Homo sapiens: one gene and its partners. The protein of the gene in region 6 interacts with the protein of the main gene of each other region in a pairwise test. Each region holds a gene or a part of one and is shown on either strand. Other genes may lie near its edges.

The links.
Region 1: the proteins of NCAPH2 (region 6) and TTC32 interact in a two-hybrid assay, tested with the Homo sapiens proteins (one large-scale study listed by BioGRID).
Region 2: the proteins of NCAPH2 (region 6) and DYRK1A interact in a two-hybrid assay, tested with the Homo sapiens proteins (one large-scale study listed by BioGRID and IntAct).
Region 3: the proteins of NCAPH2 (region 6) and TMEM14C interact in binary tests that used the Homo sapiens proteins (3 or more experiments, as listed by UniProt).
Region 4: the proteins of NCAPH2 (region 6) and UBIAD1 interact in binary tests that used the Homo sapiens proteins (3 or more experiments, as listed by UniProt).
Region 5: the proteins of NCAPH2 (region 6) and CTXN3 interact in binary tests that used the Homo sapiens proteins (3 or more experiments, as listed by UniProt).
Region 7: the proteins of NCAPH2 (region 6) and MAL interact in binary tests that used the Homo sapiens proteins (3 or more experiments, as listed by UniProt).

Annotation. Positions count from the first base shown.
Region 1 is NC_000002.12:19,896,131-19,898,983, forward strand, and holds the end of TTC32 (tetratricopeptide repeat protein 32), read right to left. Parts: intron 1,906-2,853; coding exon 1,739-1,905; intron 997-1,738; coding exon 857-996; 3' UTR 501-856; downstream 1-500.
Region 2 is NC_000021.9:37,488,773-37,492,272, reverse strand, and holds part of DYRK1A (dual specificity tyrosine-phosphorylation-regulated kinase 1A), read right to left. Parts: intron 2,722-3,500; exon of another isoform or gene 2,649-2,721; intron 2,327-2,648; exon of another isoform or gene 2,228-2,326; intron 2,099-2,227; coding exon 1,812-2,098; intron 1-1,811. UniProt on the Homo sapiens protein: Dual-specificity kinase which possesses both serine/threonine and tyrosine kinase activities. Exhibits a substrate preference for proline at position P+1 and arginine at position P-3.
Region 3 is NC_000006.12:10,728,849-10,731,627, reverse strand, and holds the end of TMEM14C (transmembrane protein 14C), read right to left. Parts: intron 1,014-2,779; coding exon 962-1,013; 3' UTR 501-961; downstream 1-500. UniProt on the Homo sapiens protein: Required for normal heme biosynthesis.
Region 4 is NC_000001.11:11,276,198-11,279,697, reverse strand, and holds part of UBIAD1 (ubiA prenyltransferase domain-containing protein 1), read right to left. Parts: intron 1,285-3,500; exon of another isoform or gene 825-1,284; intron 522-824; exon of another isoform or gene 423-521; intron 1-422. UniProt on the Homo sapiens protein: Prenyltransferase that mediates the formation of menaquinone-4 (MK-4) and coenzyme Q10. MK-4 is a vitamin K2 isoform present at high concentrations in the brain, kidney and pancreas, and is required for endothelial cell development.
Region 5 is NC_000005.10:127,652,082-127,655,581, reverse strand, and holds part of CTXN3 (cortexin-3), read right to left. Parts: intron 3,330-3,500; exon of another isoform or gene 3,221-3,329; intron 2,533-3,220; exon of another isoform or gene 2,391-2,532; intron 2,266-2,390; 5' UTR 2,159-2,265; intron 1-2,158.
Region 6 is NC_000022.11:50,521,724-50,525,223, reverse strand, and holds the end of NCAPH2 (condensin-2 complex subunit H2), read right to left. Parts: intron 3,484-3,500; coding exon 3,376-3,483; intron 3,239-3,375; coding exon 3,185-3,238; intron 3,044-3,184; coding exon 2,973-3,043; intron 2,882-2,972; coding exon 2,809-2,881; intron 2,727-2,808; coding exon of another isoform or gene 2,724-2,726; coding exon 2,655-2,723; intron 2,554-2,654; coding exon 2,504-2,553; intron 2,404-2,503; coding exon 2,302-2,403; intron 2,208-2,301; coding exon 2,058-2,207; intron 1,990-2,057; coding exon 1,849-1,989; 3' UTR 1,614-1,848; coding exon of another isoform or gene 813-1,613; 3' UTR 444-812; downstream 1-443. Other genes in the region: protein SCO2 homolog, mitochondrial precursor, read left to right, coding at 813-1,613. UniProt on the Homo sapiens protein: Regulatory subunit of the condensin-2 complex, a complex that seems to provide chromosomes with an additional level of organization and rigidity and in establishing mitotic chromosome architecture.
Region 7 is NC_000002.12:95,024,294-95,028,507, reverse strand, and holds the start of MAL (myelin and lymphocyte protein), read right to left. Parts: upstream 2,801-4,214; 5' UTR 2,716-2,800; coding exon 2,623-2,715; intron 2,169-2,622; exon of another isoform or gene 2,075-2,168; intron 1,950-2,074; exon of another isoform or gene 1,479-1,949; intron 1-1,478. UniProt on the Homo sapiens protein: May be involved in vesicular trafficking from the Golgi apparatus to the cell membrane. Plays a role in the maintenance of the myelin sheath, and in axon-glia and glia-glia interactions.

The DNA of each region.
Region 1 (2,853 bases), on a different chromosome or scaffold from region 6:
TCAATATTTAAATCTTAACCTATTTTTATCAATGATTACTTGAGAAAATCAAGTGTAATTCAAGCTGAACTCTTTCAAATTGTAGGACATGTTTATTTTTAAGCCTAAATGTTATGTCTCTCTAGCCTAGCTATATAAAATAGCCTTTCTCTCAAAGCCAATGCTAGGGCAAGAAAATGGACAGGGGACTAGATTAAAAGAACTGAGAGAAACATAAAAAAAAAAAATGCAATTGAAACCTGATTGGCTCTAGATCCAAATAAAAATCTACACACTTTGGAATATGGGCTGGATATGGCTGACATTACAGAATTATTCATTTTATTAGGTATTATAATGGTATTGTGGTTATAAAGGAGGATGTCCTCAATCTTAGAAAATGTAGGCTGAAATATTTAGGGGCGAAGTACTGTGACCTCGTCACCTTATTTTCAAATGTTTCAGCAAAAAGTTATATATTTAAATAGAAAAAGCAAATGTGGCACAATATTAACAACTCATGAATTTAACTGAAGAGTTTATTATACTTTCAACTTTTCTGCAGATGTAACATTTTTTAAATAAAAAGTTGAGAATAAAAAAATCACAAAAATAGTTTTGCTGAAGAAAATACCACACATTCCTTTTTACTATAATATTTAATATAATAATATACACTTATACATTGGTATTATTTACACTTCATTAAAAAAAACCCATTCAACCTGAAATTAACTACCTTAAACACACTATTTAACTTTCAGTGCTAATGTATTAATTTCTTAAATATAAATCAAAATAGCTCAATATCTAAATTACTGATAACTAGATGCAGATGTAAGGATCATGAATCAATACTTCCATTAAGTTAAAAATATCAATAATTTTTTGCAACATTTCTTCTTTGTTTTTCTTCTTTGTCTAGAATAGTCTGTTTTAAGCTCAAAGTAGCATCTTGAAATCCAGGATTTAAGTCTAAGACCTTCTTGAAATCTTCCAAAGCATCATCAAAATATCCTGTACCAGAACCCAAAAAATGGAAAAGAGAAAAGAAACCGAGTATTTCTATATATTATTCATGGAAAAGCTTTGATACATGTACTTTTGCTTTTATATTTATGAGCTTTCAGTCACTTCTAGTAAAGGAATCTTTTTATCTTAATAATATAGAGATGTGTATATCAAAGTAATTTTGTGTGCCCTTAGGGAATAATACACCTAAAATTAGCTATGGGTTTATTTATTGAGATTTAACAGGTAAATATTATCAATCATCTTAAAATTTTAATAAAACTGTATCACCTGTTTTACATAATTGCAGTAAAATTAAGAAACGGGAACTAATTTTCTTTTTGACACTTTAAATGAAGAAACACTACCTATGGTCCCTTTAATCCAAGAATCTAAACTTCACTTTCTATTGTCTTGTGTGTCTTCAAAGATTTTAACTCAGAAAAGTTTCACAGGTGAACATCTGAATTGCCCTCATTTCACAGCTGGGAATGCACAAGCACAAAGTAATGGGGTCACCCCTGCTCCTGCGCCCAGGTCCAATTCCCACCCCAGTGCTCTGCTGTGATCTATAACGCCTATCAAAAGCCTAAAATAAACTCAGGGACACTTCCTTTGTTCCAAGCTCTAAACCTAAATTTCACAGAACTTTAAAATTTGATTACCACGTTAGTTTTACAACATTTGAAAGCTCTGAAATAACAGAATACAGTCAATGACAAAACTCAAAAAGAAAAAAAATTCTTACCCAGCCTATACAGTATCAACCCTCTGTTGTAATATGGAACTTCAAAATTGGGTTGGACTTCTATGGCAGATGTGTAGTCATCCATGGCTTCATAAAAATCAACCCTGAAGTACTTGATTTGCCCCCTGTTGTTATATGCAGTAGCCAAATCCTCAGGGCTGCATTTGCTTTAAACAAAAAGTTCACATTAAAAACACCGTGTTACCAAATTCCTCTCATTTCCACTTTCATTCTCTTTTGGGTATTGTCAAACTTCACAGCCTATAACATGCAGCATCAACACTGAAAATCCAAGCTGAAGAAAAAACGTACAAATAAAGAGCTAAAATCAATTTTTGTTTAACCCTGTTATCTACTTTTGTAGGGTTATACCACTGCAATGTCAACCTGAAAAGCATACTAACTTTACAGTGTGTTCACTGCCAATTTGTTCTGCTGAATATAACATTAAAATGATTGTTCATTTTTCTAAGCACACACCAGCAGGGCAAAGAAGACAGAACAGATAAATACTAAGCAAAGAGGGAAAGCCAGCCCAAAGCCCGAGTTTGCTATGGATATGTCACAATGTGAATCAATTTCATTCTCAAATTTTTAAGTGATCTTAAAACAATAAGATTTGAAATCATTTTCCACCAATAAAAAACTAAAGTTAACGCTAAGTGAAAATTCAACATGCTACGATCCCCAGGAAGTTATCTCTGGGGACAGAGTTGCCCTCCCTCCAGCCTCAGCTGGCATCCTCCCCAATGCCAGGCTGGCTTCCTGCTAGGAGGGTGGGCTCCTTTAGACCCCCTCAGGGCTCCAGTCAATTTTGATGTCCTTTGTGCAGAACTGGCTCTGCACCTGAGGGAACTAGAGGTTGCCCAAAGAGCTTTAAATTAGCAGCCATTCCTGGGCTGTACAGCCAGGTAGCTCTGACCAGCCACCAGCTCAACAGGTCACAGCCCCTGGCTGCCTTGAACCTTTCTCTGCACAGGACAAATAGTCTGCACAGAGAACATTAGTGCCTCTGCTCTGAGTCAGGGATGATTCTGTTTCCCTTTCTTTTTTCCCAAAGCAATTCTCAAATTAGAACCAAACAGAGAATTCATCTGTCACTTCTTTGTAATACC
Region 2 (3,500 bases), on a different chromosome or scaffold from region 6:
TGAAATTTTCTGTGGTTCCCACTGAAACCTCCAGCCAAGTCTTCGAGAACAATCTCAGGCCTCCACAGGTAGGTCAACCAACCTTAAGGAACTATGAGAAGAAAGTCTAATTTAAAAGAACTGGGAAGAAGTATTACATTTCCATGGTTTTTATAAGCCAATACCATTGTTAACTCCCTAGGCCCAAACACTCACCACTCCTGAGACTTTTATTTCACAGCTTATGCCAAGAACTTTGTCACCTCCCTATCTAATTTGTTTAAAGCAGTTGCTTTCCCCAAAACACACTTGCCCTACCACCTTCTGATTCTAATCCAACAGATCTAGGGGCAGGACCACTGCAGGTCTATTTTAGAAATAACTTCCCATGTGATGCCAATGAACTTGAATAGTTAAAAACTTATTGTAGGGATAACTGGCTCATTTTGGCTAGACAGAAATAATAATGTTTAATATTAGGACAAAATACATAATTTGGCTTAAATAGGGGGAAATTTTCCCAACTCTATAATCTATTCAAATTACTGTCAAGATGGGCATGTATTTTTCATTCACAATATACTCTACCACATATTAACTACGAGCATCTCTTGATTTTTTGAAGGCATCTAAAACTGCAAACTTTGCTCCCTACTCCAATTTTTAAAAATTACTTTAACATTTGATAGCCTCACTACCATGAGAAGTTGCAGAAAATAACAAAAAGACAGTCCTATTAATTGGCTATAAATCCTTATGATTAAATTAATCTGTTATAGTTAAAACCTGGACAAAAGTAGGACGGGACAGAAAATTTCACTAATTTGGAAAAATAAGAAACAGAAAAGTCAGTAAGAAAAATTAACATCTGTATGTTAGCCGGGTTTCTTTAAAACAGAAGAAATATAGTTTCAATACTTAAAGCAAAAAGAATAGTGCTTAAAATGAGTAAAATATTATCAAATGGTGACACTAATTCCTTTCAAGAGGAGACCCCTATCACTTCTATTTTATACATAAAACAATGCTGTTAGAGTAGTTTTCATAATGCTGGAAGAATGACAGGAAAAAACTGCTTTCCTAAATCAGCTAAACTTATCAGCACTACGAACACATCTGTTTTTAGCAGTCTGAAAAAAACCAGCTTGGATATGTGTCAGAATTTATGTAAATTTTAAATAAGAGTGGGGAAAATAAGACAAACTTATTTATCAAAACAAGTAAGTCTATCAACTGAATTTTCTATACTTATACCATGACTAATGCAAAATTACCTGCATTTTTTTGAACCATCAGTTTTTGAGAAAAAAGATTTATCTTGATCCATCTTCAGAGAAGTATTTTACAGCAAAGATTCAATGTTCTAGTACTGGAAAGTCCCAAAATTTATACTAAAACCTTTACTTGGGAAATATAGTTACAAATCCCCTAATATTTAATCATTCCATCTCCTATTCTCTCCCTTAATCTTTTAGCATACATACAATTTTAAATATACCCATTTCAAAAAAATCAATGTCTTTTGACTCAAAGTATTGCTATTTGCATTTTAAAAGGTATTTCCCCAAAATAGATATCAACACAAGGTAATTAAGTGCTACATTTTAAAGATAAATAAGCATCCTGTAATTGCCTCTAAATGGTATACACCTTATTAACATTTCAAATATCTATTAGGTTGGCGCAAAAGTAATTGCGGTTTTTGCCACTGCAAAAACAGCAACTGCAATGGCGAAAACCGCAATTACTTTTGCGCCAACCTAATACCTACACTGTCCTACCTACTTCTATTTAATTTCTATTTAATTCACAAGTTCTGAAATAATACTTACCCTCTGCCCCAACTGACAAGAACTGCCAAAGTCAACTATCTTGATTGCACTGCGTTTGGGGTTACAAAGAAGGATATTTTCAGGTTTTAGATCACAGTGAATGATACTAAGTTCTGGAGTCGCAAGGAAAAGCAGTGCAGTGCACATCTGTTGCGCAAACTTTCGTGTTAGGTTCAAAGAGACCCCTCGGAAATTGGTGTTTCTCAGCAAGTCATAGAGGTTGTAGGACAGCATTTCAAAAACTAAACAGAGATGGTTTCGAAACATAAAGTGGCGTTTCAAATGCACTGAAAGAGAAAACAGTTTCATTTTAAATTATATATACCAATAAACTGAGAGTAACAAACACATGCACTCTCAAATGTTCTATAACATTATTACATCAAATGCAGAGTTCAGTTAAAGTTTGGAGATCAGCATTTTGTAATAACAGCAGTTTTCAATCAGTTAAGAATATCTAAGTTGCTCTTCTGCTGAATTAAACAGGTACAGCATATGTCGGTAAGTGATATAAGGTAAGCAGTGCTACCAAAATGCCTTGTTTCTCTAAAAGTCAGATCTGAAAACATAAGGACCAAATGGACAAACAGCAGTGAGAATATTTCAGCAATTTTATCTTCATTTATAAAAGAAAGCACTTTTTACTTCCCGAGAGCCCTACCTCACAACTTCCTATGTCTAAGCTCCACCTACTGGGATCTCTGGTTTGTGACAATGCTGTAGTTGGCAGCCCTCTGTGTAGGCTTTGAAATGTATCTGCACTGCTGAACTTTAGATTTCACTGGTAATTTTCTGTCACAATTTTCATTGATAGCCTTTTTTTTTTTTACCCTTTAGGCAAATACAACAAATGTCTGAAAATCATGCTTTGGTAAAAGTATTGGAGGACTTAACTGTGTTTATCAAATTGGTAAGTGACAACTCTTGTGTGAGACTGAAGGTTTGGAAAACTTCAAAATAAAGCTCAGCTACAAGAAGAGATGATAAGGAGGCTTGTGAGTGGGGAAACAGCATAGAATACATAGGTCGCTATCACTGTTGACCCTCTAAAAAGGCTGAATACTCACTAAATTGCCTCAAAGATTGTGCTTTAACTATTAACACTGACGTCACATCAGATGAGGTTATTCGATAAAGTGCTGTCCCTCCCTGTTAAGTCTTATATATACCAAACTGAGCACCTGTAACACAACTGCAATGACATAAAACACCCATCTGTCAAGGTGATTTTCATTTTATCTTATAGTATTACAAAATGAGAGGTTTCTCTACAGATCTATCTGGAATAAACTGATAGTAATCAATGTCTGATCACTAAGAACTGTGGATACATTGTGTTTTCCTGGGAATAGTCCTGGGCTGCCTGCCTCAAAGCAGTGAACATCAATATTGCTTTTAGATCTTTCATGGTATAGGTGATCTAAAGTTAGAATAAGTAACACAATAAAAATAACTACATGGCTATATAGGAGTCTACAGCACAACTCGATACTAAAAATAACAAAAGGAATCCTTAAATGTTACCTAAGAATGTAAAATATCTGCTCTTAGTCACTTCAGTTTATAGGTTTAAAACTAAAAACATAGTTCCATGATACCTCACAATCATGGTCTGTGGATGGCTTTTAATCTCCTGGTTAAGCAGGTGCCACTAAATGAATGCAAAAAGTAACTGCTGTCAGAATTCTA
Region 3 (2,779 bases), on a different chromosome or scaffold from region 6:
AACCTCAGTGGCCAGGTACAGTAGGTCATGCTTATTACTCCAGTACATTTTGGGAGGCCAAAGCGAGAGGATCACTTGAGACCAGGAGTTTGAGACCAGCCTGGGCAACAGAGCAAGACTGCATCTCCAAAAAAAAAAAAAGTACATTAGCTGGGTGTGGTGGTATGCACCAGTAGTACCAGCTATTCAGGAGGCTGAGGTGGGATGACTGAACCCAAGAGTTTGAGGCTACAGTGACATATGATTGCACCACTGCCCTCCAGCCTAGGCAACAGAGAAAGACCTTGTCTCTTGAAAAACAAAAAAAATCCTCAGAGGTCATTTTTGAAACAAGCTTCAATGCAATGTACAATCAAATAAGTTTCCTTGGTCCTTAAGTTATTCAAAATAGGTAATTTCTAAATATTAACAAAATACTTTCATGTTTCTATATCTTGCTGCTAGCAATATCTCATTCTATGAACTAGACAGCTCTGGCAATGAAGACCCCATAGGAAATATTATTTATAGTAAACTTTATTTTCATTGATATTTCACTTAACATAATTTCAAAGTCAGTCTGTGGTCTAAGATGAGCAAAAGAACAGATATTGTAAATCTCCTAAAAGACTTTTTTTCACACTGTTCCTCAGAGCAGGGAATGGGGTTTCAGAGCCCTGAAAGCTGACACCTAACATTTTACCCTTGAGATTTACCTACAGATACAGAAAGAAAAGACAACATCAATATACAAGAATCAAGCTCTATGAGGGTCTTATTAAGCTCTTGTGTTACATACTCGCCACCTCTGTAGGTTTGTAATCATGACTGATTTTCCACCTCTCTGCCAAGTTTGGTGTCTTTTTTTTTAGGTAAAATGTCAGATGCAAAAATGCTGCACTTATTTCTCTTAATATATTGAAAATAGTGGAAGATGCAGATTTTTAATTCTTCATCAGTCTAAGCTGGAACATGACTTCTGCTAATGGGGTCTGTTGAACATACTAACTCCAACTTTGGCGACCATCAGCAAACTGTTTAAAAGAAACAAGATAGAAAATGTCAGGTAAAGGACAGAACAGGCAACTATGTTTTTAAGGAACTAAACTGCTGGTTCCTCACAACTGCGTGGGGGAGGAGGTACTAAGGCAAGAGTGGTCAGGGGTAAATTTCCATCCCTGGAGGAACCAGAGAAAAAGCAAGCCAAGGGAGTCTTAAAATAGCACACATGAGCTGGATCCTAACCCAACTGCCAATAATTTGAAGAGATGAAGAAATGGAGGCAAGAGAGAGCAAGGCCTCCCCACCATCACAGATCTGATTAATGGTAGACTCTCCAGCGTCTCAGTTTACTGCTCTAGACCTTGCTCCACACTGACTTCCTTGCTTCAGGTATAAAACATTATACTGGTAGCATCACAACTATGATCAGAGTATGTAATCTTTCTCCAAAACAGATTTTTAAAAATTCCCCTACCTTCAGGATGTCTTTATGATACTTAACTAAATTTTTTGTTTTTGAGAAGGTTTTTTATTTTTATTTTTTCAGATGGAGTCTCACTCACCTCTGTTGCCCAGGCTGGAGTTCAGCAGCACAATTTCGGCTCACTGCAACCTCCGTCTCCCAGGTTCAAGAGATTTTCCTGACTCAGTGTCCCAAGTAGCTGTGATTACAGGTGTGCACCACCATGCCCGGCTAATTTTTGTATTTTTCATAGAGATGGGGTTTCACCATGTTGGGCAGACTGGTCTTGAACTCCTGACCTCAAGTGATCCGCCCGCTCTGGCCTCCCAAAGTGCTGGGATTGTAGGCATGAGCCACCACACCTGGCCTACAACTAAAGTTTTGTTTGTTTGTTTGTTTGTTTTTTGAGATGGAGTCTTGCTCTGTCCCCCAGGCTGGAGTGCAGTGGCATGATCTCAGCTCACTGTAATCTCCGCTTCCCAGGTTGAAGCAATTCTCCCTGCCCCAGCCTTCCGAGTAGCTGGGATTACAAGTGCCCACTACCATAACCAGCTAATTTTTGTATTTTTCATAGAGACGGGGTTTCGCAATGTTGGCCAGGATGGTCTTGAACCCCTGACATCAGGTGATCCGCCTGCCTCTGCCTCCCAAATTGCTGGGATTACAGGTGTGAACCACTGTGCCCAGCCACAACTAAATTTTTTAAAAACCACAATTTGGTTTAGGTTTTATAATCAAAATTAGAAAACAGGGCCAGCCGCAGTGGGTCACGCCTGTAATCCCAGCACTTTGGGAGGCCGAAGTGGGCGGATCACAAGATCAGGAGTTCCAGACCAGCCTGGCCAATGTGGTGAAACACCATCTCTACCAAAACAACAAAAATAGCTGGGCATGGTGGTGCACGCCTGTAATCCCAGCTACTCCGGAGGCTGAGGCATGAGAATCGCTTGAACCCGGGAGGCAGATGGTGATTGCAGTGAGCGGAGATCACGCCATTGCACTCCATCCTGGGTGACAGAGTGATACTCCGTCTCAATAACAACAACAAAAAATAGAAAACAGGATTCAATCAAAATTCTCTTTTAGCAAAATTTTCTGTAAAAGACATCTACACATCTAAGAAATATGGGGCCCCCAAATCTTCCATGCAAGTCACACAAAAGGCTGCAGTCATGGCTTTGCACTAAAACTTCTGCCACCATATAGGGAGGAGTTTGGATGGACTGGAAAGCAAATATGAGAACAAACCCATTTCCACGGTGAATGGATATACTCATGCCATTTTGACATTAAACTAGCTATTGTTTTTGAAACATTTCCTATTAGTGTATATAT
Region 4 (3,500 bases), on a different chromosome or scaffold from region 6:
ATGCCTGTAATCCCAGCACTTTGGTAGGCCAAGGTGGGTGGATCACCTGAGGTCAGGAGTTTGAGACCAGTCTGGACAACATGGTGAAACACCGTCTCTGCTAAAAATACAAAATTAGCCAGGCATGGTGGCAGACGCCTGTAATCCCAGCTACTTGGGAGGCTGAGAATCACTTGAACCCGGGAGGCAGAGGCTGCAGTGAGCCGAGATCATGCCACTGCACTCCAGCCTGGGAGACGGAGTGAGACTCTGTCTCAAAACAAACAAAAAACAAAACAAAAAACCACGAAGTCAATTGCTTGCTTTTCCCCCAAAACTTGTTCTATCCCCAGCCTTGCCCTTCTCACATGATGACATCACTCCAGATGGTATCTTCCAGTTCTCAGGTCAAAACCTTTGAGTTATGCTTATGCAGCTATTGATAGGCAATGGTATGATTAACTGGGGCCTTAAAGATGATGAAGATATGACATTTACAAGGTGGACAGGCATGATTATTGGGCCACCAAGGACAAATTATGAAAAGAGAATATAGGCCGGGCATGGCAGTTCACACCTATAATCCCAGAACTTTGGGAGGCCAAGGAGGGCAGATCACGAGGTCAGGAGTTTGAGACTAGTCTGCCCAACATAGTGAAACCTCATCTCTACTAAAAATACAAAAAATTAGCTGGGTGTGGTGGTGTGCACCTGTAATCCCAGCTACTCGGGAAGCTGAGGCAGGAGAATCACATGAACCTAGGAAGCAGAGGTTGCAGTGAGCCGAGATCACGCCACTGCGCTCCCGTGTGGGCCACAGCGCGAGCCTCTGTCTCAAAAATAAAAAAAAAGAATATATAGCCTGAAAATAGAAAGTGGACCCAAATACCCAGAAGCTCCCCCATCAGTTAGATTTGTAACAAGAATTAATATGAATGGAATAAATAACTCCAGTGGGATGGTGGATGACCGCAGCACACCAGTGTTAGCAAAATGACAAAATTCATATAGCATTAAAGTTGTACTTCAGGAGCTAAGACGTCTAATGATGTCCAAAGAAAATATGAAGCTTCCACAGCCACTGGAAGGACAAACATACAACAATTAATTTTAGTGGATCTCAAACTTGTCTTATATCAACAACCTTCTACTCGTGTTAATGTCTTGATTAAATATCACAATGCAAAATACCCACACGTTAAATAAAAGAACTCCGGCTGGTAAACATGACCTGGACATTTGTAAGAATATATTTAATATATGTACACCCATTATGTTTTCAGGTAACAGGAAAAATGCAACCCAATTTTTTTCTCTTGTTAAGGTACTGTCATTTAAACATAAACTTGGAGTACTCGAAATATAATTCAGGTTTACAAGATGAAAGCGTGGTAAGAAGTGTCAGATGGCAGTGGAAGCATGTGTGTTTCTAAAGACTAAAAATCTCAATAAAGAAAACAGGGCTGGGCACAGTGGCTCATGTCTGTAATCCCAGCACTTTGGGAGGCTCAGGCGAGCAGATCACTTGAGGCCAGGAGTTCAAGACCAGCCTGGCCAACATAGTGAAAGTCCGTCCCTACAAAAAATCCAAAAATTAACCAGGCGTGGTAGCACGCGCCTGTAGTCCCAGCTACTTAGGAGACTGAGGTAGGATGATCGCTTGATCCCGGGAGGCAGAAGTTGCAGTGAGCTGAGATCGCACCACTGCACTCTAGCCTGAGTGACAGAGTAAGACCCCCATCTCAAACAAAAAAGGAAAGGAAAAAGAAAACAGAGGCCAGGAGAGGTGGCTCACACCTTTAATGCCAGCACTTTGGGAGGCCAAGGTGGGCAGATCACCTGAGGTCAGGAGTTTGAGACCAGCCTGACCAACATGGAGAAACCCTGTCTCTACTAAAAATACAAAATTAGCAGGGCGTGGTGGCCCATGCCTGTAATCCCAGCTACTTGGGAGGCGGAGGCAGAACTGCTTGAACCCCGGAGGTGGAGGTTGTGGTGAGCCGAGATCGTGCCATTGTACTCCAGCCTGGGCAACAAGAGCAAAATTCTGTCTCAAGAAAAAAGAAAACAGAAATGGCATGCTTTATCCATCTTGCTTAGTGAAAGAGAGCTGCAGTTGAAATTGTTTAAAAAGTAGCAGGTATTGGCCAGGCATAGTGGCTCACGCCTGTAATCCCAGCACTTTAGGAGGCCAAGGAGGGTTGATCACTTGAGGTGAGGAGTTAGAGAGACCAGCCTGGCCAACATGGCGAAACCCCGTCTCTACTAAAAATACAAAAATTAGCCAGGCGGGCACCTGTAATCCCAGCTACTGGGATTATACTTGAACCTGGGAGGCGGAGATTGTGGTAAGCCAAGATCGCACCACTGTACCCCAGCCTAGGCGACAGAGCAAGACTCCGTTAAATTAAAAAAAAAAAAAAAAGTAGCAGGTACAATGAACACTGTCACAAATGTGTTTGATTTTTTTAATTTTTTTTATTTTTTTGAGATGGAGTCTTGTTCTGTTGCCCAGGCTGGAATGCAGTGATGAGATCTTGGCTCACTACAACCTCCCAGGTTCAAGCGATTCTCCTACCTCAGCCTCCCAAGTAGCTGGGACTACAGGCATGCACCACCATGCCCAGCTTATTTTTGTATTTTTAGTAGAGATGGGGTTTCACCATGCTGGCCAGGCTGGTCTCGAACTCCTGAACTCAGGTGATCTGCCTGCCTCAGCCTCCCAAAGTGTTGGGATTATGGGTAAAAACTACCACATCCAGCACAAATGTGTTAATTTTTGAAGTGGTGTGGGTGCTGACTACTAGTAGTATGAAAAATATGTTCAGGATTGTTTTGATACCTATCTTATAATAAAAAATGTTGGGGGGGAGTTGATGAATTTCTGTTAAAAGCTGTTCATGTGTGTTACACGTAACAGACATGGTAAATATTTGCTTACAGTTTTTTTTTTTTAACAAACTATGCACTTAAGGTTAAGTGACATCAACAAAAAAGGGATACATATATGGAGATATAATTTTGAAACTAAAGTTGGTCTTTTTTTTTTTTTTTTGAGATGGAGCCTCTCTCTGTTGCCCAGGCTGGAATGCAGTGGCATGATCTCAGCTCACTGCAACCTCTGCCTACTGGGCTCAAGCAATCCTCCTGCCTCAGCCTCCCGAGTAGCTAGGACTACAGGCACATGCCACCACGCCTGGCTAATTTTTGTATTTTTAGTACAGACAAGGTTTCACCATGTTGGCCAGGCTGGTCTGGAACTCCTGATCTCAAGTGATCCACTTGCCTTGGCCTCCCGAAGTGCTGAGATTACAGGCATGAGGCACAGCACCCAGCCCAAAGTTAGTCTGAAAATGTAAATAAAATGTGGAATGTGTCCAAGAAAAAAAAAAACCTTTGAGTTATGCTTAATTCCTCTGTTTCTCTTTACCTCACATCCAATCCATCAGCAAACCCTGTCTACCTTCAAAGCATATTTAGAATCTGGCTACTTACCTCTTCCACTACCACCCGCTAGATAC
Region 5 (3,500 bases), on a different chromosome or scaffold from region 6:
GGGCCATCTGTGTCCACCAAAAATATTCAAACTATACTTAATCATATGAAATATAAAATTCTCCAAGGGCTGGGCCAAAGGAAAGCCCGCTGATGACAGAGGAGCAGATGCTGAGGCCATCCCTGACATACTCCTTGCTTTTTCATATCCTACTGAGGATCCTCTCACTTTGATTCCTGCTCTCCTTGCAGGATTATCAGAATCTCATTCTATGCCCTTTTTCCATCCAGCCCAAATGAGGCCAGAGTCCTGTTCTTTGTCCATTCTCAACAAAGCCGAGACAGGTATGCATTTTCAGAAAGTCTTTTTTTTTATTTTGAGACGGAGTTTCGCTCTTGTTGCCCAAGGTGGAGTGCAATGGTGCGATCTCAGCTCACCACAACCTCCGCCTCCCAGGTTCAAGTGATTCTCCTGCCTCAGCCTCCCTAGTAGCTGGGATTACAGGCATGCACCACCACGCCCAGCTAATTTTGTATTTTTAGTAGAGACGGGGTTTCTCCATGTTGGTCAGGCTGGTCTTGAACTCCTGACCTCAGGTGATCCACCCACCTCAGCCTCCCAAAGTGCTGGGATTACAGGCATGAGCCACCATGCCTGGCCATTTTCAGAAAGTTCTTTAGGAAAACACCATATAATCCAAAAAGGAAATATAAGAAGAGAAAAGACCATTAACTGTATAACTGATGTAAGGATTTCTGGATCTGTGAAATCCAAAAATTCAGGTAAGAACTAGATAGAGAACCTTTTGAGTCCTTGAGAATGACCTCCTCAGCACAAGCAGGCTGACTAGGACGGTGATACCTTGCTCAGTCCCTCCCTTCCCACCGGGGATCTCCACTTGATGAGCAACATTGTGACCCCAGGAGTAGTCTTCCCCAGCCTTCTCTTCCATACAGGGCAAATGCCAAATCCTTCTCTCCTGGATCAACTCTCATACTTTCTAGGCTTCACCCACAACTCAGGATTTACAGCGAGCAAACCATTCATTTGGGGGCTGCAGTGGTAGGCAACCATTCCAGAAATTCCAGCAAATAACTTATTCATCCTGATTCAGATTATCTGCCATATCTGCCTCTTCAGTCACCCTAGGAATGACTCTGGGACTCAGATTCTGCACGAGGATGCCAAGTATTAGAATGATTTTTAAAATCAGTTTTAATTTGAAGTTTTACCATCCTCTACTGATTAAAAGGCAAGGTACAAAGGAAAGGTTAACCCTCTTTGCATTGAGAAGCCTCCTAAAATATAAATATGTGTATACTCCAATGTCTTCATCACCAAACCTTTCCTGATATACCAAATTATGAGCAAATAGAGGTGAAAGAATTTTTAAAACTCTGTAGCACATTGGGAGTTGTAATCCTCTCCTCTCCCAGCACACTGTGGTGCCCAAGTTCCTATAAAAATAACTGCTTTTGGTCAAAGTATCAACGTCTCCTACTAAATTGCAATATTTTACCTAGGAAAGTGGCACATTAATGTGCTAGCAGGAATTTGTGAGGACCGTTCCCACCTGAAGGAGGGGAAAGTGTGGTAAGTAGAAAGGCGATTGAAGGAAGACCTAGCTGGGAATGAGGGACTCCTGGACAGGACAGGAAGACAGGCATGGTGGTGTGAACAGGGGGCCCACTGGAGAGCCCTAGGGGAGGGATGAGGGATGGTGGGTAGAGACAATCAGGAGGTGGTTGCTAAAGGGATAAAGAGATCCAGAAACCAATGCTGACTAATTCACAATTTTGCCCAGGACTGATTGAAATCCCTGGAAGAGTCTGCTTGATTTTAAACCTGCAATCAGCTAATCAATAATTTACCGATTTAGAAAGCTCCAACAGCATGTATAAGTTGAAGGAAGCATCAGCTATTATAAGGTGGAGAAAAAGAAATAAATGTAATCATTTTGCTACCACAATACAAAAATATCTCAAGACATGTAAATTTTTAAATGTCTGTCTCGCAGTAAAATGTCCCTTTTTGGTAAAAATGATTCTTAGAAAATGTGCAAGTTTGCTTTTAACTGAATAATGACATCTTTCTTTTAGATGACCAGGGAAATCTGTGCAAGTCTATTATTTCAAAGGATTTTGATACCACCATCAGAAGCCTTCATAATAACACATGGCAGCTATTTTAAGTATAAAGAAGGACCACAGTTACTCACAGCCATATTTTAATCCTGATAGGCTTTCCTCATCACGCAGTACATCTGTGTCTTCCCTTTGTCAGGTCCATTTGTGGGTGCTCAGGAAATAGAGTCTAATTTTAATACTGAAAAATTAAAGAAAACCTTAATTAAAAGATACCCTTTTCAAAAGTCATATAATACATTCCCTTGCTCGAGTCAAGCTCCCTTGTGATACTGACAAAAACAGAAGACACCCATAATTACTTACGAAGCCCAGCAGGCGTAGTCATTGCAGCCAGGGTCATTCACACTCTTAGTCACTTGCTTTAGTTTTAGTAATTTTCAAAGTGGCGTTCCTCATCCCTTGCCCATGCTTCCTACACACTGCATCTCGATTCATCTTTTTAAGCCCAGATCTCACCACTCTTCCCCTCAGAAAACCTTTGCACCCCAGTGTCCACAGCCCATTAACCCCCTTGTGGGCCTGATGCCCAGATGTTTTCCGGACCACAGATTAGGACCTATGCTGACAATGGAATTTTTAAGATCTGAGTTTTATTTTTATAAGTTTAGAAAGGAGTCAACACCAAATCACATTTAGTTCTCAGTAAAATGGCCAATGTGTTGATCAGAATAAACTTCCGTGTAACTGAGTCTGTGGACACCTGTGGAGAATGTCCTCATTTTGTCTGTTTTTCAGCTTGATCCAATACCTGCTGTGCTCTAACACCTCCAGGTTTCCTACCTCATAATACTTGCCTCCTCTCCTTCTTTCCATCTGTGGAGAGGAGGGGAGGCAAGCACTATGAGGCAAGCATCTTTCCTCTCCTTCTTTCCATCTCTCCCTCCCTTAGGGTTCACACCAAATACCCACTTCTCGGTGGGGCCTTCTTTGTTTCCCTTCACCAAGGATGGGGTGTTTTTTACTCCATCTCCAGAGACATCACCTGTACTCGGTGGCAGCACTGATTACAGTGCGAGTCTTGACAGTGTTTATCTCCTCCTTATTACACAATAAGCTCCTTGAGGAATTATTTGCTGTTCTGGGATCATTGCCTTTTTAAATATAAGTTAAATCAAATCTTCAACCCCTTACAGTCCAGGGAACTGAATTCAAAACCCGAGGTGCCAGCTAACTGATGCAGAGAGGAAAAACAAAAGCACAAGTCATCAAGCCGGACTGAGGTGCTGGACCATCACATTTGAAGTAAGTCTTGTTTGAAAGAAAGACAGCTAGTTCAAGTCACAATGACACTTTAAAACCCACAGATCTTGTAATTTGAAGAGCCATAAGTTATTTGGCTCATTAAATTTTCCTTGGCCTCCGTGTTGATGGGTGGAATCTGAAATATAAAAATCAGCCAGAAATTGAAAGTTA
Region 6 (3,500 bases):
GCTGGCCTTGCTGGGGAGGGCACAAACCCAGAACCGCCCGGGCGGGGGTGCAGTGAGTCCTCGGGAGGGTGCCCTCAGCAGGAGGGGGCAGTGACCGGGAGTCCTGAGACCTCCACCTAGCAAACCTTCTGCGGGGGCCCGTGGGAAAGGCTCAAAGGTCACCAACGCAAAGGCAGGGCGTCGGCTGTGAGCCCGGAGGAGCTGCTGGGAAGCCTGGATGTGAGGAGGGTGGGGTTTTGTGGCGGGTGGAAGTGTCGTGCGTCTCTGCCAGGAGAGGTTAAACACAGCCGGCGGGCAGAGTCTGAGCTCCGGGGGTAGGTCGTGCAGGTTTTCTGCTGGGAGTGTGGAGGAAGGCCGCGGTTGGTTGAAGTGGCTGGAGGTAACAGGAAAGTGTTGGAGGAATCGGTTGCTCTCGGGGATTGCAAGCCAGAGAGTTACCCACCTCCTTTTAAGAAATGGGTTTATTGCAAATAGATAACGTGGTTAGTTCAGGCAAGGCATGCACTTGGAATGCTTTCCGTCAGCAAGAGGTTCACCTTGCTGAGGTGCAGGTGCAGGGCAGGGTGCGGTGACAGGCTGGTGATCCCAGGTAGAGGACAGGAGTGACAGGTGTGGTTGCCCAGGTGTGGATGTTTGGTGGAGGTGGAGTTCTGAGCTCAGGTGAGCAGCTGCAAATGCCTGTTAAGCCTGAACGTGGGCTGGGTCCTTCAGATGGGTGGCTGGTCTCAAGTCGCAGGGGCAGCCCAGGCACTGTCCTGGGCCTTCCCTTCTGGCTCCTGACGCCTGTGCTTGTTTCCAGGAGCATCAGATCCATGCTGCTGCTGACTCGGAGCCCCACAGCTTGGCACAGGCTCTCTCAGCTCAAGCCTCGGGTCCTCCCTGGGACCCTGGGAGGCCAGGCCCTGCATCTGAGGTCCTGGCTTTTGTCAAGGCAGGGCCCTGCAGAGACAGGTGGGCAGGGCCAGCCCCAGGGCCCTGGGCTTCGAACCCGGCTGCTGATCACAGGCCTGTTCGGGGCTGGACTCGGTGGGGCCTGGCTGGCCCTGAGGGCTGAGAAGGAGAGGCTGCAGCAGCAAAAGCGAACAGAAGCCCTGCGCCAGGCAGCTGTGGGCCAGGGCGACTTCCACCTGCTGGATCACAGAGGCCGGGCTCGCTGCAAGGCTGACTTCCGGGGCCAGTGGGTGCTGATGTACTTTGGCTTCACTCACTGCCCTGACATCTGCCCAGACGAGCTGGAGAAGCTGGTGCAGGTGGTGCGGCAGCTGGAAGCAGAGCCTGGTTTGCCTCCAGTGCAGCCTGTCTTCATCACTGTGGACCCCGAGCGGGACGACGTTGAAGCCATGGCCCGCTACGTCCAGGACTTCCACCCAAGACTGTTGGGTCTGACCGGCTCCACCAAACAGGTTGCCCAGGCTAGTCACAGTTACCGCGTGTACTACAATGCAGGCCCCAAGGATGAGGACCAGGACTACATCGTGGACCACTCCATTGCCATCTACCTGCTCAACCCTGACGGCCTCTTCACGGATTACTACGGCCGGAGCAGATCGGCTGAGCAGATCTCAGACAGTGTGCGGCGGCACATGGCGGCTTTCCGCAGTGTCCTGTCTTGAGCCACTGCAGTCTGGGCCCCATCATTAAACGGGCTGCGTTTAATCTGTGTGTGTGTGTGATCTGTACCAGCGGCCCAGGGAGGCCAGGCAGCCCTCTTCTCTGCGCAGGTGTACATAAAAGGGTTTTTAGGGGGAAGATGAGATGGCAACACTGCTTTATTAGGCCGGGCCAGCCAGGAGCAGACACACGGCTCCTCAGTACACATTCCCCCACCCCTGCCTCGGTGCTCCCCACTCAGGGCTGGGCCATGGAGGGGGCAGCGTAGGTCTGGAAGCGCTTGTGCGCTCGCTGGTGCGTGAGCAGTCTCAGGGACATGGTGTCCACGGCCATCTCCAGCCCGGGCTGCTGGGTTATCTCCACTGTGTAGTCATTGGCCTGCAGGGGTGGCACATCAGCAGGGTCTGGGGACCGTCTCCCCCTCCCACGTATCCCAGGCTACTCACCAGCTGCAGGGAGGCCAGCATGGAACGACACACCTCGAAGGCCGGCTGGCCAGCCACCAGCTCCGCAAAGGGACACCACTCATTGAGCTGGGGGAACCGTGAGACCAGCTGGTCCCCATAGGTGTGGATGTCAAAGGGCACATGCTGCTCCTGCACAGGGGAGGGGCATGTTGGCTGCGGAGAGAGGCAAGGCCCTGGACAGACCCGTGGCACACAGCTCTGGTTCCCAGCGGCCCCGCCTCACCTGCTCCTGGAGCAGAGGCTGCACTGTGTCCTCCCAGTCCCTGATGCGCTGGCTCAGCTCTGTCTCCTGGACAAACTTCTGGGAGGTGGCGATGAAGAGCTCCTAGGGGAGGATCAGCAGGAGCTACTGCCTCCCAAGCAGGGGCCTGGGCACCGCTCACCTGTCCCCCTCCCCTCCCCGTCTCCCTCTAACCCAGGCCTACCACATTCCTTCGAACCAGCTCCTCGTAGCTCAGGGACATCGGCACTGCGTCTGGGAAGGGGTAGCTGTGAGCTGGGCAGCTAAGGGGCCACGCTCTCCCCTGCCCCCAGCTCCAGTGGCCCCTCAGCACTCCTAGCCCGCTGCCCACCTACCAAGGTCAGCGGCTTCCCTGGGGTCTGCTCCCTCGGGCTCCATGTACTCCTCAGGCTCTAGAAAGTCATCTGCTGGGAGGTGGGAGAGTGAACAGCACGCAGGCAGCTAGTCGGCAGGTGCCAAGCCCCACCCCACCCCCTGGCAGGCACCCACCTGCTGCCCCCAGGTCTTCCAGGGAATCCTCCAGGTGGTCCTCCTCTGCAGGCCGCAGCCACTGCTCAGCCACCTGTCCAGAGAAAGCATCTGTGAGGGGCACTGTCACCTCCCATCAGGGCCACCACGGGGTCCTAGATCACAGCTGACCAGCTGGGACTTGCCTCCCTCCTCTGCAGCTTCCGGAGAGTTTCCAACTGCTCCTTCACGTGTGTCCAGTACAGGACCTCCATGTCTGCAGACAAAGGCCTTGTGAGGGCTCCCTCGTCCTTCCCAGGCCCCGTGCCAGTCCACCCAAGGCTTTGGGTGACACCAGGTGGGGGAAGAGGTAGGGGAAGGAGAGTAAAACTGTCTTCCCCGAGGACTTCAGCCTCACCTGCAAAGGACGGACCCTTTCGCCGAAGCCGCCTGCTGTCGGCATGGTCTGCATCTGTGAAAGAACATGCTCAGCACCAGCCAGGCCAAGAGCTGCCCACAGCATTGGGAAAAGGGTGCTGATCCTCCTCCACTGGCCCTGGCCCAGCCCCCAGCTCCCAGTGGTCCGGAGTGCACACCACACCCACTCACAGGCAGCCAGGTACCACTGGTGGAAGTCCTGCAGCTTGGCAGCGCCCTTCCTCTTGCGCTTCTGTCCCAGAGCCTCCTCCACACAGGGGGGCACAGAGTAAGGCCTACCTGGGGGCAAACAGGGA
Region 7 (4,214 bases), on a different chromosome or scaffold from region 6:
CACAGTGGCTGAACCATTTCACATTCCCGCCAGTGGCATACCAAGGGTTCCAATTTCTCCACATCCAATACTTGATGTTTTCCGTTTTTTGGATAGTAGCCATCCTAATGGGTGTGAAGTGGTATCTCATTGTGATTTCTTTCTTTCTATTTATTTAATTTATTTACTTATTAATTTATTTTTTTGAGACCGAGTCTCACTCTGTTGCCCAGGCTGGAGTGCAGCGGCATGATCTCGGCTTACTGCAACCTCTGCCTCCCAGGTTCAAGCGATGCTCATGCCTTAGCCTGCTGAGTAGCTGGGACTACAGGCATGAGCCACCCAAGCCGGGTTTTTTTTTTTTTTTTTTTTTTTTGTATTTTTAGTAGAGATGGGGTTTCACCATGTTGGTCAGTCTGGTCTCGAACTCCTGACCTCAGGTGATCCACCCACCTCAGCCTCCCAAAGTGCTGGGATTACAGGCGTGAGTCACCGCAACTGGCCTCATTGTGGTTTCAATTTAGTTTTCCTAATGCCTGATGATGTTAAGCATCTTTTTATGTGCATATTGGCCATTTGTGTATCTTCTTTGTAGAAACCTCTGTTCAAGTCCATTGTCCATTTTCTAATTGGGTTGTCTTTTTGTTGTCGAGTTGTAATATTCCATAATTAAAAAAACCTCTCGAGTAGCTGGGAGGCTGAGGCAGGAGAATGGCGTGAACCCGGGAGGCGGAGCCTGCAGTGAGCCAAGATCGCGCCACTGCACTCCAGCCTGGGCGACAGAGCGAGACTCCGTCTCAAAAGCAAAAACAAAAACAAAAACAAAAACTCTCCCGGGGTGGCCAGCGCCTTCTCAGGCCCTTTAATTCTCCACTCCTTCCACACATCAAATATATACAGCTTCGTATTTACAGTCCATGCAGAGGAGAACTGAGAGGCTTGGGGTCAGCTTTCTCCTCTTCTCTCCCAGGCACCTGCGAGCCCACCCCTAATCTAGAGCATGTGGAAGATGCCTGGAGATGACTATGCATTGCGGGTCTCCTGGGAAGTGAGGAAGGGAGGTGGGGAACAGGGGTGAGGTGGAGAAGTGACTTTCTAAGTCAGCTGAGAGAAGCGTTCTGGGCGAGGGGGAGTTGTTTCTTCTGGAAGCCCCGCTACCGGCAGGCCACAAAGCCACGCTGGAAGAGCAAGCTGCCAGTAGTAGATGGTTCCAAGGTTTCCCACGCCCCTGTAATTTCTGCAGCATTGGCGGGTTGGGTGGGAGTCTCCGGTCACCTTTCCCGCAGATCAGATCGCCCCGTCTAACTGGACTGTTCCTACTCTCAGGGGCACTCCTTCTTGTATGCTGAACTTCTAAAAGGAGGCCAGCGGGGGGCTGGCTCTCTGTAAACGGTGGGGCTGCGTTCATTGGCGTCCAGGGTTTCTTCTAAATGTAACTGCTTTGATTCCGCCTATCCCTAGGATTTCAAGTCACCGGTTCCACCCAGGTTTGGGTTCGACTGGACTTTCACCCTAAGTTCAATGGTAGCCCTGCTCCCAGGCCGCCGCAGCCCTCTTAGCCTCTGCCCGCAAGCCCTCTTTGGATGAACTGACCTGCTCCCTTTGGTATTCACACCCTCCCCCTCCAATCAGGCAATAACAACCTGGGGTCCAATTTTTAAACAGCCAGGCTCCGACATTTTCTTTCCCGCCCAACTCTCCACGCTGACACTTCTGAGGGTGGGGTGCCGGAAAAGGTGTCCCTCAGGCGGTGACGGACCGCACCCACAGGACATACAGGGCACACCCCTCCCAGGTGAAGGCCAGCGGCCCCCGGGGAGTTGAGGCTGAGGGAGGTCACTTCGGCTTCGCGACACCGTGAGCGCTTATCAGGAGTTCTCAGTAGGAAGCGCTTTCCTGCAGCCTCAGGCAGAGACCGTGCGTGCAAGGCGGGACCGACCGCAGGTGCAGAGGCCCCGGGCCTGCCCAAGGTCAGTCGAGGCGCGCGGATCGCTCTCGCCGCCACCCCCCACCCCCCACCCCCCATCTCCTCCACCCCCACCCCGCACACGGGGCAGAAGGACTGCGGCCAAGCAAACGATGGCCTCATTTCCAGATCGAATTGGTCGCAAATACGTTCCCTCGCCAGAAACTTTAAAAGGCCAGAAGAAAATAAACCGGATTCAGCTCCCTCTCATCTCCAAATCTCGGTTGGTAATACTAATGTTTCTCTTGCTGATTTTTTTTTCTTTTTTAACGAAACCTTCTCCCTTGTAAAAGCTGCGCACTTCTACCCAACCGCGCAAAGCGCGGCGGGAGCTTCGGTGGCGCTGCGCGCGTCAAGTGGGCCCCGCGCGCAGCTTTGGGACCAGCGAACCAAGAGCCGTCCCCCCCTGCCCCGCTGCCTACATCTGACCCCAGTTGGGAACCCAGTTTTTCCTCCATAGTCCTGTAGACTGTTCCCCTCATTCTGTTGGTCTAGAAGGGCACAAAGGACCGGAGGTGGGAGGGGACTTCCCTGGCTTAGTCCCCGCCCTGCGCCTGCTGCCCCGATGCTCCCAGAACCTGCGCAGCTAGCGGATCCCGTCCGACAGCTGTGCTGGGCGCCCGAGAGAGCGCACGGCTCAGCCCACCCCGTCCCTTCCCCGGCCAGGAGCCACTCACAAACTCAAAGATGAAGAGCAAGTCGGGCAAGGTGGTGAAGACCGAGAAGCCACTGGGCAGGGTGCTGCCCCCCGTCGCCGCTGCGGGGGCCATGACGGCGTGCTGGCGTCGGCCTTGGGACGGGACGAGCGCCGCTCAGACTCCGCGCAGACCTCTCGCTGGCTCCGCGGAGCCCAGTGGCCTGGGCGCCCCCGCGCGCGGGTTAAGAGCAGGGGAGCCCGGGGCAGAAGAGGGAGGAGCCCCGGCCGCCGCCCAACCCCGCCCCCCGCCCCACGCCCCGGGAGACCCGGCCCGAGCGCCGCGGGCACCGCCCTGAACCTCTTCGAGGCCCCGCTGCGGGCGTCCAGAGCTGGGGACTGTGGGTCTGACTCCTGCGTTCCAGCCGTGGGTGCCACCTCTTGCGGGAAGCAGGGCAAAACCACTTTGGTCAGGCGCTCCTCGTGCCTTTCTCCCTTCGTAGGTGACCAGCATCTCGTAAGAATGATAACCATCAGTAACCGGGACCCCAAACCTTCTCATCAAGGCACCTCTCGGGTCACCATTACTTTAACTTTGAATTTGGGTCTCCTTCATTTTTCCGCTGGATGCGTTAATGTGCGCGACCCACAGCTCCAGGCGGCGGTTTCCTGGCGGAACTGGACCACCGCCACAGGCTGGGGGTCTGCAGTGGGGGATGGGACCGGCCGCGGCCGCCGGCCCCTTCCGCGTCCACTGAGCCGGCGCTGGTTCGGCGCTGGGATCCTGCACCGGGCCTCTCTGCTTGGTGCTGCGCGTCTGCCTGAGAGTAGGAGGTTGCTCCCAGCTGTGCCGGCCCCAGCAGAAGGCTGCTGGTGGTGGTGCTGGGGCAGGTCGGCCTTGAATCCATGCGACAGGAAGGGACGTTACCAGAAGAGATTCATCGCTTTCTCTTGGTCTGGGCAGCCCGGGCCTTTTGAGGGTGGGACCGCTGCTACCCCCACCCCCAGGTTCTTTGCCTGCCTGTTGACTGCCGGTGTTTCATGTTTTGTTTCTCTGTTTCACTATTTTTTATTTTTTGCCTTAAAAAAAAAAGTATTACCATGCAGCAGTTGCCCATTTATTTTAATTTACTATTAATAGTGTGATTGCTGTGTTTCCTCCTACAAACACTGAAGCCTGAAATCCGCCCGAGTCCGGATTCTCGCCTGCCAAAAGGGAATTGGCCCCGCAACCTCCAGCTTAGACTCCCAACTCTTCTTTCTTTCCATTGGCAGCTGCTGCAGGCAGGACAAGGGGCTCCCCTTCTCTCCAGTGGGGCCTTCACCTCTCCCTGCTGCACAATTCTTCCTCCTTCCCAGTCCCTAGGGAGAGAAGTATATTCGTGGACGCATTTTCCAAAGCAAAAGTAGCACGCCCATCAGCTGGCCATTCTAAGTGCCTCTGGAAAGGGGCCAGGCATTTGAAATGAGAAAACCCCACTGTGCCTCTGTGAGCTGCCAGCCCGGACGGCTGCAACCAAGGTGCCATTGTGTCGGGTCCCCAGGGCAGCATCTCTCTGGACACAATGGGCTGTGGGACTTTAGGAGCCCAGGTCCTCATCCACCTTGGGCATCTCATAGCTCGTTAGTTGGACC